Regions from separate parts of the Homo sapiens genome. Here region 2 is linked to region 1. A link means that fine-mapping ties the variant in region 1 to the expression of a gene that starts in the linked region. Tissue or cell type: whole blood. Region 1 holds a variant in brackets; the other region holds the start of a gene. All regions are shown on one strand. Distances are between the middles of the regions.

Region 1 (5,363 bases):
CTAAGAAGCCACCGCAATGTTGGTGAGAAAGTGGGTCAGATGTGCCACAGCCTTAGGCCGCTTCAAAGTCTAACCACGTCCTGAAAACCTTCTGGTTTGGTTCCCAGCTCCTGCTCCGATCTCGCCTCTATTTGAAAACCACCATCCCCACATCGGCCACCTCTCAGTCACCCCATCCTCTGGCTCACCCCCGAGACCGCTGCCAATTGGGGGGACCCGTCCATAGCACGGATGGCGCTGCTTCCGGCACCTGCGCCGCCCGAGGGTCTCCTGGCCATGGCCTGGGGGTGCCACGCAGCCGTGGCCACCGCATCCTCCCTCAGTGCTCCCCACGGCTCTCAATGCGCTCCCCAAGTGCTGACCACGCGCGCCCCCACGGCTCCCCGACAGCTCCGCCACGCCCTCCCCACGGCTCTCCACGCTCTCCCCAAGTCCCCAACGGCTCCCCCAAGCGCTGCCCACGCTCCCCCACGACTCCCCCACTCCCTCTCCACGTGCTCCCCACGTGCTCAGAGGAGCCTGGACAGGTGGATCCGGGTTGCCCCGGGGACTCATTCAGGGGTGAGCACACCTTGTACTTTTCCCTCGTTGTTTCCCTCCTTCCCCTCCTGGAAATGCCTCCTGCGGAAACCACTCAAACCCTTGTCTCAGGACCATGGCAGGGGTCTCCTTTCTTACAGGGCTGGCTGCTTCCTCAGTCAAGGCTTCTTTGGCTATTTACTTATCTAAAATGAAAACTCCAGCCATATTCTCAGTATTTCATAGCCTCCTTTTCCATGTTGTTCTCATTCTTTAAAGTACTACCTATTTCACCTACTTGTAGTGTTCTCTGTATCCCTCTCCTACCAGAATGTGACATGGACGGTAATGTCAGCCTTCTTCACTCCTGGTTAAGCAGACTTGAGAAAAGGGCCTGGCATACAGTAGGCATTCAGTAAATGCTTTGTGACTCTGTCGAGAGGTGACAGCATGCTGGCAGCCCTCACAGGCCTTGCTCGCTCTCGGTGCCTCCTCGGCCTCGGCGCCCATTCTGGCCGCGCTTGAGGAGCGCTTCAGCCCGCCGCTGCACTGTGGGAGCCCCCTCCTGGGATGGCTGAGGCAGGAGCCGGCTCCCTCAGCCTGCGGGGAGGTGTGGAGGGAGAGGCACGGGCGGGAACCAGGGCTGGGAGCGGCGCTTGCGGGCCAGCTAGAGTTCCGGGTGGGCGTGGGCTTGGCGGGCCCCGCACTCGGAGCGGCCGGGCAGTGAGGGGCTTAGCACCCGAGCCAGCAGCTGCGGAGGGTGCGCCAGGTCCCCCAGCAGTGCCGGCCCACCGGCGCTGCGCTCGATTTCTCGCCGGGCCTTAGCTGCCTCCCCGCAGGGCAGGGCTCGGGACCTGCAGCCCGCCATGCCTGAGCCTGCCCCCGCACCCCCGCCGTGGGCTCCTGGCGGCCCGAGCCTCCCCTATGAGCGCCGCCCCCTGCTCCACGGCGCCCAGTCCCAACAACCGCCCAAGGGCTGAGGAGTGCGGGCGCACAGCGTGGGACTGGCAGACAGCTCCACCTGCAGCCCCCGGGCGGGATCCACTGAGTGAAGCCAGCTGGGCTCTTGAGTCTGGTGGGGACTTGGAGAATCTTTATGTCTAGCTAAGGGATTGTAAATACACCAATCAGCACTCTGTATCTAGCTCAAGGTTTGTAAATGCACCAATCAGCACTCTGTGTCTAGCTGATCTGGTGGGGACTTGGAGAACATTTATGTCTAGCTAAGGGATTGTGAATACACCAATCAGCACTCTGTATCTAGCTCAAGGTTTGTAAATGCACCAATCAGCACCCTGTGTCTAGCTAATCTGGTGGGGACTTGGAGAACCTTTGTGTCTAGCTCAGGATTGTAAACGCACCAATCAGCACCCTGTCAAAACAGACCAATCAGCTCTCTGTAAAACAGACCAATCAGCTCTCTGTAAAATGGGCCAATCAGCAGGATGTGGGTGGAGCCAGATAAGGGAAGAAAAGCAGGCTCTCCGAGCTAGCGGTGGCAATCTGTTAGGGTTTGTGTCTGTCGTGTGGAAGCTTTGTTCATTCGTCTTTTGCAATAAATCTTGCTACTGCTCAGTCTTTGGGTCCACACTGCTTTTATGAGCTGTAGCAGTCACCACGAAGGTCTGCAGCTGCACTCCTGAGGCTAGCGAGACCA[C/T]GAACCCACCGGGAGGAGCGAACGACTCCAGACGCGCTGACTTAAGAGCTGTAACAGCTTACCGCTAAGGTCTGCAGCTTCACTCCTGAGCCAGAGAGACCAGGAACCCACCTAGAAGGAACAAACTCCGGACATGCCGCCTTTAAGAGCTGTAACACTCACCGCCAGGGTCCGCAGCTGCATTCTTGAAGTCAGTGAGACCAAGAACCCACCAATTCCAGACACACTGTCATCAAAAAGTGGGATATCTTTTTAAACAGAGATAACATTGCAGAATCTTGGAGTTGGAAATAGACCTCAGCTGGGGTTTAGTCCTGTTTTCTCCTCAGAGCAGAAGTCCTGGGATGCCGTTCTGGACTGATTGTCAGTTTTTTCTCCTGTCCTTGAGCTATTCTAATGCCAGACATCTGTGGCTTTACACAGCCAGGCTTTCAGTTAGAGAACTTGGTTAGCTCAGGTCAACAAATGCTGCTCTGAGAACACTGACTCCCATGTGGGGAGACTCTGCACCTGGAGCTCCGGGAGAGCCGGCTCAGGCCTCTTCCTGCTATCCAGGGAACTGCAGTGGCGTTGGAGGGCCTTGCTGGGGCTGGGGCTGGGGAGAAGGGATTCCAACCCTACTGATAATTCGTTTGGAAACACCGGGCTGTGGATTTCAGAAGTTCTTGGGCAGCCTGATTACCACTGGCAGTGAGCCGGGGACGAAGCCGAAGCTATGAGTGACAGACGGAAAGAACTGGGGGCTTTGGTGAACCAGAGAACACTTAGCTCCTCCAGCCCTGAAGCAGGCGTCACCGCAGGGCTTATGGTCCTAAGAGCCACTTAGTTTCCTTATTCATTAAACTAGTTTAATTTGGGTTTTCTGCATCCTGGAGGACACCAAGTCGGTGTGCGGAGGGACCCTGTAGACACGTGTGCAAAGAATAAGCCGACGATCATGGAATTTCTGATGACGCCACTGACACGTGGGATGGAGGCCTCCTTCCCAGGGCACCCCTACACTCATGACAATGAATCCTGGCTCTTATTCACCCCTTTGGATTTCACAAGCAAGTAGTAAGTAGAAAAATAGTTTCATTTTATTTTCAGTACATCAACTGAATGTGCTAATACTTGTATCCACTTCCACATGTAAGAACTCTGTTACATAAATTTGAGAATAATCTGCTCTTTGCTATTTTGACTTTATTTTCACTGCAGATTACCAATTGTCCCTACAATTTGCGTTTTATAGTTTACATCATCGTACACTTGATTTTATAGGGAACAAAAGGTTCTCAATAATTACAAAGAAATGTGTTGATTTAACATACTCCAAGAATCTCATGAACACAGTCCAAATAATAATTCAAAATTGAAGGTGGTATATTGGGCTAAAGTGTCCAGCAACTAAGGAACTAACGATGACTTAACTTTTATTGTCTTGGGTCACAGACACATAAAATTGACTAGAAAATTAATCCTGGTATATCTTTTGTATCTTCAACATCACTATGAATATTCTACTTTTTAAGTGACATGGAAACATTCAAATTGAGACATGGAGTCTGAGAGTGACACGGGCTGCTGGAGTCCACACCCTGTTGACCAAATCCACACCTTTGGTGGCCAGCTCCGTTTTGGTTTTCAAACTTTAAGCTCCATTGTATCCCCAAAATATATGAATGAAAACAAATCAATTTATTTATTTTCATTTTAGTTATTTATTTGAGACAGGGTCTTGCTCTGTCGCCCAGGCTGGAGTGGGTTGTTGTGATCTCGCCTCATTGCAACTTCCATCTCCTGGGTTTAAGCGATTCTCCTGCCTCAGCCTCCTGAGTAGCTGAGATTACAGGCACGGACCACCTTGCCCGGCTAATTTTTGTACTTTAGTAGAGAGAGGGTTTTGCAATGTTGGCCAGGCTTGTCTGGAACTCCTGACCTCAAGTAATCCTCCTGCCTCAGCCTCCTAAAGTGCTGGGATTACAGGCGTGAGCCACCACACCCGGCCCAAGTCAACGTATTTATAATATGTGAATTGTTTGCACACCTATTTCAAGCACTGGAAAAGAAAAAAAAGAAAAGAAACAGGTCCATGAATGAGGTAAGCAGAGTTGGACCCAAATACTTCAATGCCTTCTCAACAATTTCTTCTAAATGGCTTCCCGAAATTAGCTCTGCACGACCTATCTTTCTTGGGGGGTGGGGAAGCGATTACTTTTTAAAAGCCACATTAAAGTGTGTGTTCTATATCACGATGGCAGTTAAGGGAGGGGAGGCGTCTACAGCTGACCTGGGGAAGTTTTAATCATTGAACTATGCACAAGTGGGGCCGGGGCGGGAAGCGGCAGGAAAATGAGGCACCTTCTGCAGAACCTAGCCAGCCTGCAGGCGTTCCTGATCTGAGGAAAACACTTTAATTAATATGTAAAACAGCAGTGGGGAGAAAAGCAAGGTTAATTTCCAAACCACATCACTACCAGCGGTATTTGGGTTATGAAACCTTGGGAAACTTCTAGGAGATCCTGTTTGAAGGCACAGAGGTGCTTTTGTGTGTGAGTAGCTTCTGAGATGCTCAAAAGCTCTTTTATCTGCCCCCTGCAGTGGTATTGCTCTTTCTGTGTTTAAAAACACTGCCTTTGACTGGCAGGCTTTTGTTTTTAATTTGCAGTGCATCCTCCATTTTTGTTTGGAACTTGCCTGAAAGCAGCGTTTAGGGGAGAGAGAGCTGTTTGATTTCCTTTGTTGCGGCTTTCTTAGCTGCTGGCTACCTTTGGAATGTGTGACACAGGCGTCTCTCCTGGTTAGGAAAATGTTCTGTACTTGCCTGGGGTGAGACTGTAGCTCATTTCCTGGGTTGAGATCTAAAATCCTGAGCAGAGTTAAGTGTATCAAATAGTGGCTGTGCCAAGGATCAGTGTCTGGTGGAGACAGCGGATTTTCCAAGGTCATGGAAGTGAAGAAACAGCTGACAAGTCTTTCCCTAGCTTGAGCAGAAACAGCTCCATTCAGTGCGTGAACAATTAACTCAATTAGAGAATGTGCAGCTTTCTAAAGACGCGTCCACTGTGAGTGCGTGTGCCTGCGTTTCCTGCCTCCCTCTCCTCACAGACACCTCAAAAGCAACATATCTGAAAAGTCCTCTTAGCTACCCTGTCTAGGAGAAGTCAGAGGCTTGAGGACGATACTGTGTTCCTCCCACCGCTTG
Region 2 (5,330 bases), 56 kb before region 1:
TAATTGATTCTTTCTTGAAAAGTAATTATTTCAGAAGACTTCTAATAAAATAATCATTATTGTATATGATTCTGTTAAAAATAGAAAAAACAAACAAACAGAAAAAACTCCCTGCTGAAAGATATGGCCATTTTATTAGCTGTGAAAGGAAAGAAAGCTTCCAAGGAAAGATCTTGGACCATGAGAAAAAATTTCAACCAGGCTGTTTGCTGGCAAGAGGCCATGCCAGCCCCAGCCAGTCCTGCGTGCAGAGCATGTTGGCAGATGTTATTAGCTGACTTTTGTTGAAAAAGTATGGAAGAACAGTTGGAAAATCACAAGGTGTAGAACAAGCTTTAAATAAATAAATAGCTTATCTGGCAATAGAAAGGGGGAAAGAAAACAAGTTCCTCGGTTGAGGAAGAGGACTGGGATACTTCTAATTACAGAGTTTCTTACTGTTGGTTTGTTTCATGGGCTGACTCTCAATGAGAATTGAAATTGTATCATCCACATTTGTATTTGGAGGTTCTAACTGCAGAATTGCAATTAATTTCCAGTTTGCTGTAGGAAATTTATACTCTCTATGACAGAATACCACGGACATAGGTGATAATTCTTTAACCTTCTCTCTTTTGTCCCCAGTCTGGTAACTGAGGCAGTACATGGGGAAAGTGCTAACTGCCAATCCAGAGCTGCTGACACCTTAAAAACACTGGCCTTTAACACTAGGATGGCCCCAAGAAACAAGCAAACAGGAAAAGATGACACCTGCTAGCGTGTGACAGGCACAGCAAGTAAATGTTCAATACGGATATGAAAATGCAACTGCATAATAAAAGTCAACATGAAAAAGAAAAAGATTGCAAAATATACTTTCTCAGAAGAAACCATCACATGATGTTTAAAAGTGGTGGTTCCTTTAGCATTGTCTACTGATGGCTGGCAACATACAGGAACATAGAGGTGGCCCATTTACATCCTCATAAAAGTGGGATGTAAGTGATCACAAAGCCAATAAAACTACACCACATTTTCTTCAAGCACCAAGATAAGAATCCCTTCATCTTTCCTGACTAGACATATTGCTAGGCAACATTTGTGAACGTAAGAAAAGGTAACAAGATCTAAAAAGAACGCCGAAGCATAATGTTCATAAAGGTGGCGCCCCCAACACACACAATCATACACACATACCTATACACACACAATCACACAATCTATTATATAAACAAACACGCACACATGCACACATAGGTGCACAGACTTAAAATGGCATTTCTTGAGGTATTTTTTTTTAAGGTATGATTTAAAAATGGAAGATCAACTTTAAACACACCTTTTTGAGGCACACTGGGTGATATTTGCCACAATGATTATTCTTCCCAAATTCAGGCTACTGATCAATAATCCTAACTGTATACATGCTAAAAATAAAAACGCTATAATCTTTGTACTAGTCAGGGCTCTCTTGGCACATAAAATTAGCCAACACAATCTTCAAGTCACATGTTACAAAAACATATTAAAATATATATCACTCTTTCAAAAATTACACTTATTTTCTCTTAGATTAAGATTTTATTACTTTTAAGATACTTCTATGAATTATAGAGGACATCCAAAAGTAAACATCCGGGACTTAAAAACAATAACCAATATTATAAGATAAATTATTGCTGTAAATTATTTCATGAAGGCACAATTAAAAAAAAAATAAAATAAACAGCCAAAGCCTGTTTTGTTGAGTTTTCTTCGTTGCGCAGGATCGGGAGCTTGCTGGGATCTGAACTCAGGAAGCCCTCACCTCACCCTGACTTGGTCATTGAGGAGACGTAATTGCAGGGGTGCTTATTTGCTATAGGCTTTGAAAGTCACAAAAGCCCAGTAGATACATGAATTCGAAGCAGTTCTCCAAGGGCATCTCCAACTTGGCAGTCACCGCCCGCACCGCGCACACAGGTAGTGGACGCCCGCCCACCTGCCCGTCTGCTGGGCGCAGGGCGCTCCTGGGGTGGGGAGGGCGCTCCTGTGGGGGGAAAAGGGGCGCTCCTGCCTCGGAGGGGGAAAGGACGCCCCTGTGGAAGGAAGGGGGGGCTCTTGAAGCGGTGTGGTGAGAGGACGCTTCCGAGGAAGGAAGGGGGTGCTCCTGCAGCGGTGGGGGGAGAGGACGCCCCTGCGGAAGGAAGGCGGCGCTCCTGCGGGGGCTGGAGAGACGCCCGCGCGGTCTCCCGGCTCAGGGACCGCTGGCTCGCGGGTCCGCCCTCTCCCCGGCGCTATGGAAACCGCACTTTCTCCGCCTGCCGTCCCCGATCTCTTTCTCCTATTACCTCCCAAACGCGATTTCAACTTCCCGACAAGCTGACAAGTGAATGGCGCAGAGGACGCCCCGTAAAGCGCCCGCGAGCGGGTGGGACACAGGCGCCCCCTCCGCGCCCCTCTGTCCTCCACGGAAGGGCGCGCGCCGCTCTCGATCTGGAGCGCGGTGCTCGCGAACCCGCGGCCGCGGGCCCTGGAACCTCCCCGCGTTTCGCGGCTGCGGGGGGACGGAGATGCGGCCGGGAGACGGGGACGGGAAACGGGGGACGGGGATGGGGCGCGCCCACCCCGAGCGCGGGAGCGGCCGCCCTCGCCCAAAATGGGGACCCCGCGCCCCGAGAGCACGGCCCGGCTCGCCGCCCATGCTTCCACTGCAAGGCCGCAGCCCCCGCCGCCGATCCCGATCCCCCGCCCCGCCCAGCCGCGGCCCCGCCCGGCGCCCCCTCCCCGGCGGAAGCTCAAGCCCAATTAATTGAGTCCGAGGCGGGAGGGAAGGGCCCTGCGCGCCGTGGCCCGCCCCGCCCCTCTTCCGCGCCCCTTTTCCCGCCCTGGGTGGCATCTCCTCCGCCGGCATCCACAACAAGCCGCTGATTAATGAGGCCGGGGCCGCCCCACCCCGCCCGGCCGGGCCGGGGCCTTCGCGGGAGGGGGAGGGGACGGCGGGAAACGCGGCCCGGGGAGAAAGGGGGGCGGGGCGGGGGCGCGCGGCCCGCCCCCGCGAGCGCCGCGCCGATTGGCCGAGCGCGCCGTCCGTCGGGGGGCGCGGCGCCAATGCGAGGCAGCGGGGCGGGGCGGCCGCGCTGTGTGTGCCTGCGTAACGCCGAGTCACATGTTGTTTTGCTCTTCTTAGTTCAGTCACTCGGTGCGCGATGTGTTACTCACTGTGCGGCGGGGACCGCGACGAGCCCGGGTCGCCGTTGGCAGCAGCAGCAGCAACACCAGCAGCAGCAGCAGCCCCGGCGGCGGCGCGGACCCCGAGCGCCCGGGCGCACCCCGGCTTCCCGGAGCGCGACGCGGCGGCAGCAGCCCCGGTGCGGCCGCGCGCGCCTTAGGCTCGGCCCCGCGGCTCGGGGACCCCGACTCCCGGCCCAGCGAGCGCGTCCCCCGGCGCCGCCCGAGAGCCCGAGGAGGCAGCGGCCGCAGGCAGCCGGGGAGGGGGGCGGCCACCGCCCGCGCCGGGCATCCTCAGGAGCCCCAGAGCGCGGAGGGCGCGGCGCCGCCGAGCGGTGCTGGCCCCCGCGGGCCTCCCCGGACCTTCCCCACCGCCTGGGCCCGAGGGACGCGTGATCGGGCGGGCGGCCGGGCGCAAGGGTGGGAGGGAGCCGCCCCCGCCCGCGCCCCCTCCGCCCCTCGCCCCAACCCCTGGGCGCCGGGCCCGGGCCGCGCGGCCTGAAGCGCCCGCGATGGCGAGCCCGCCGCGGCACGGGCCGCCCGGGCCGGCGAGCGGAGACGGCCCCAACCTCAACAACAACAACAACAACAACAACCACAGCGTGCGCAAGTGCGGCTACCTGCGCAAGCAGAAGCATGGCCACAAGCGCTTCTTCGTGCTGCGCGGACCCGGCGCGGGCGGCGACGAGGCGACGGCGGGCGGGGGGTCGGCGCCGCAACCGCCGCGGCTCGAGTACTACGAGAGCGAGAAAAAGTGGCGGAGCAAGGCAGGCGCGCCGAAACGGGTGATCGCTCTCGACTGCTGCCTGAACATCAACAAGCGCGCCGACGCCAAGCACAAGTACCTGATCGCCCTCTACACCAAGGACGAGTACTTCGCCGTGGCCGCCGAGAACGAGCAGGAGCAGGAGGGCTGGTACCGCGCGCTCACCGACCTGGTCAGCGAGGGCCGCGCGGCCGCCGGAGACGCGCCCCCCGCCGCCGCGCCCGCCGCGTCCTGCAGCGCCTCCCTGCCCGGCGCCCTGGGCGGCTCTGCCGGCGCCGCCGGGGCCGAGGACAGCTACGGGCTGGTGGCTCCCGCCACGGCCGCCTACCGTGAGGTGTGGCAGGTGAACCTGAAGCCCAAGGGTCTGGGCCAGAGCAAGAACCTGACGGGGGTGTACCGTCTGTGCCTGTCTGCGCGCACCATCGGCTTCGTGAAGCTCAACTGCGAGCAGCCGTCGGTGACGCTGCAGCTCATGAACATCCGCCGCTGCGGCCACTCGGACAGCTTCTTCTTCATCGAGGTGGGCCGCTCGGCCGTCACAGGCCCCGGCGAGCTGTGGATGCAGGCGGACGACTCGGTGGTGGCGCAGAACATCCACGAGACCATCCTGGAGGCCATGAAGGCGCTCAAGGAGCTCTTCGAGTTCCGGCCGCGCAGTAAGAGCCAATCGTCGGGGTCGTCGGCCACGCACCCCATCAGCGTCCCCGGCGCGCGCCGCCACCACCACCTGGTCAACCTGCCCCCCAGCCAGACGGGCCTGGTGCGCCGCTCGCGCACCGACAGCCTGGCCGCCACCCCGCCGGCGGCCAAGTGCAGCTCGTGCCGGGTGCGCACCGCCAGCGAGGGCGACGGCGGCGCGGCGGCGGGAGCGGCGGCCGCGGGCGCCAGGCCGGTGTCGGTGGCTGGGAGCCCCCTGAGCCCCGGGCCGGTGCGCGCGCCCCTGAGCCGCTCGCACACCCTGAGCGGCGGCTGCGGCGGCCGCGGGAGCAAGGTGGCGCTGCTGCCGGCAGGGGGCGCGCTGCAACACAGCCGCTCCATGTCCATGCCCGTGGCGCACTCGCCGCCCGCCGCCACCAGCCCCGGCTCCCTGTCGTCCAGCAGCGGCCACGGCTCGGGCTCCTACCCGCCGCCGCCCGGCCCGCACCCGCCTCTGCCGCATCCGCTGCACCACGGCCCCGGCCAGCGGCCCTCCAGCGGCAGCGCCTCCGCCTCGGGCTCCCCCAGCGACCCCGGCTTCATGTCCCTGGACGAGTACGGCTCCAGCCCAGGCGACCTGCGCGCCTTCTGCAGCCACCGAAGCAACACGCCCGAGTCCATCGCGGAGACGCCCCCGGCCCGAGACGGCGGCGGCGGCGGTGAGTTCTACGGGTACATG

What was found.
Region 2: it holds the start of IRS2, and the variant in region 1 is fine-mapped to the expression of IRS2 in whole blood (TOPMed, PIP above 0.99).

What each region holds. Positions count from the first base shown.
Region 1 is chr13:109,728,812-109,734,174 of GRCh38, reverse strand. LINC00676 (long intergenic non-protein coding RNA 676) reads right to left here. Exons shown (of 3, transcript NR_103846.1): 2 at 4,983-5,142; 3 at 4,141-4,217. Among named protein-coding and RNA genes, the nearest start is that of LINC00676, 3.2 kb to the right of the region's middle. RefSeq lists an enhancer at 352-853. The variant C/T (reference allele first, on the strand shown) is at 2,177.
Region 2 is chr13:109,784,425-109,789,754 of GRCh38, reverse strand. IRS2 (insulin receptor substrate 2) reads left to right here and starts at 3,172. Exons shown (of 2, transcript NM_003749.3): 1 at 3,172-5,330. The coding sequence starts at 3,702. It overlaps LOC124903211 (WAS/WASL-interacting protein family member 1-like), which reads right to left and starts at 2,671. Exons shown (of 2, transcript XM_047430835.1): 1 at 2,310-2,671; 2 at 1-2,155. The coding sequence starts at 2,662. The coding sequence ends at 1,918. RefSeq lists silencers at 2,775-2,944, 2,965-3,194 and an enhancer at 4,036-4,665.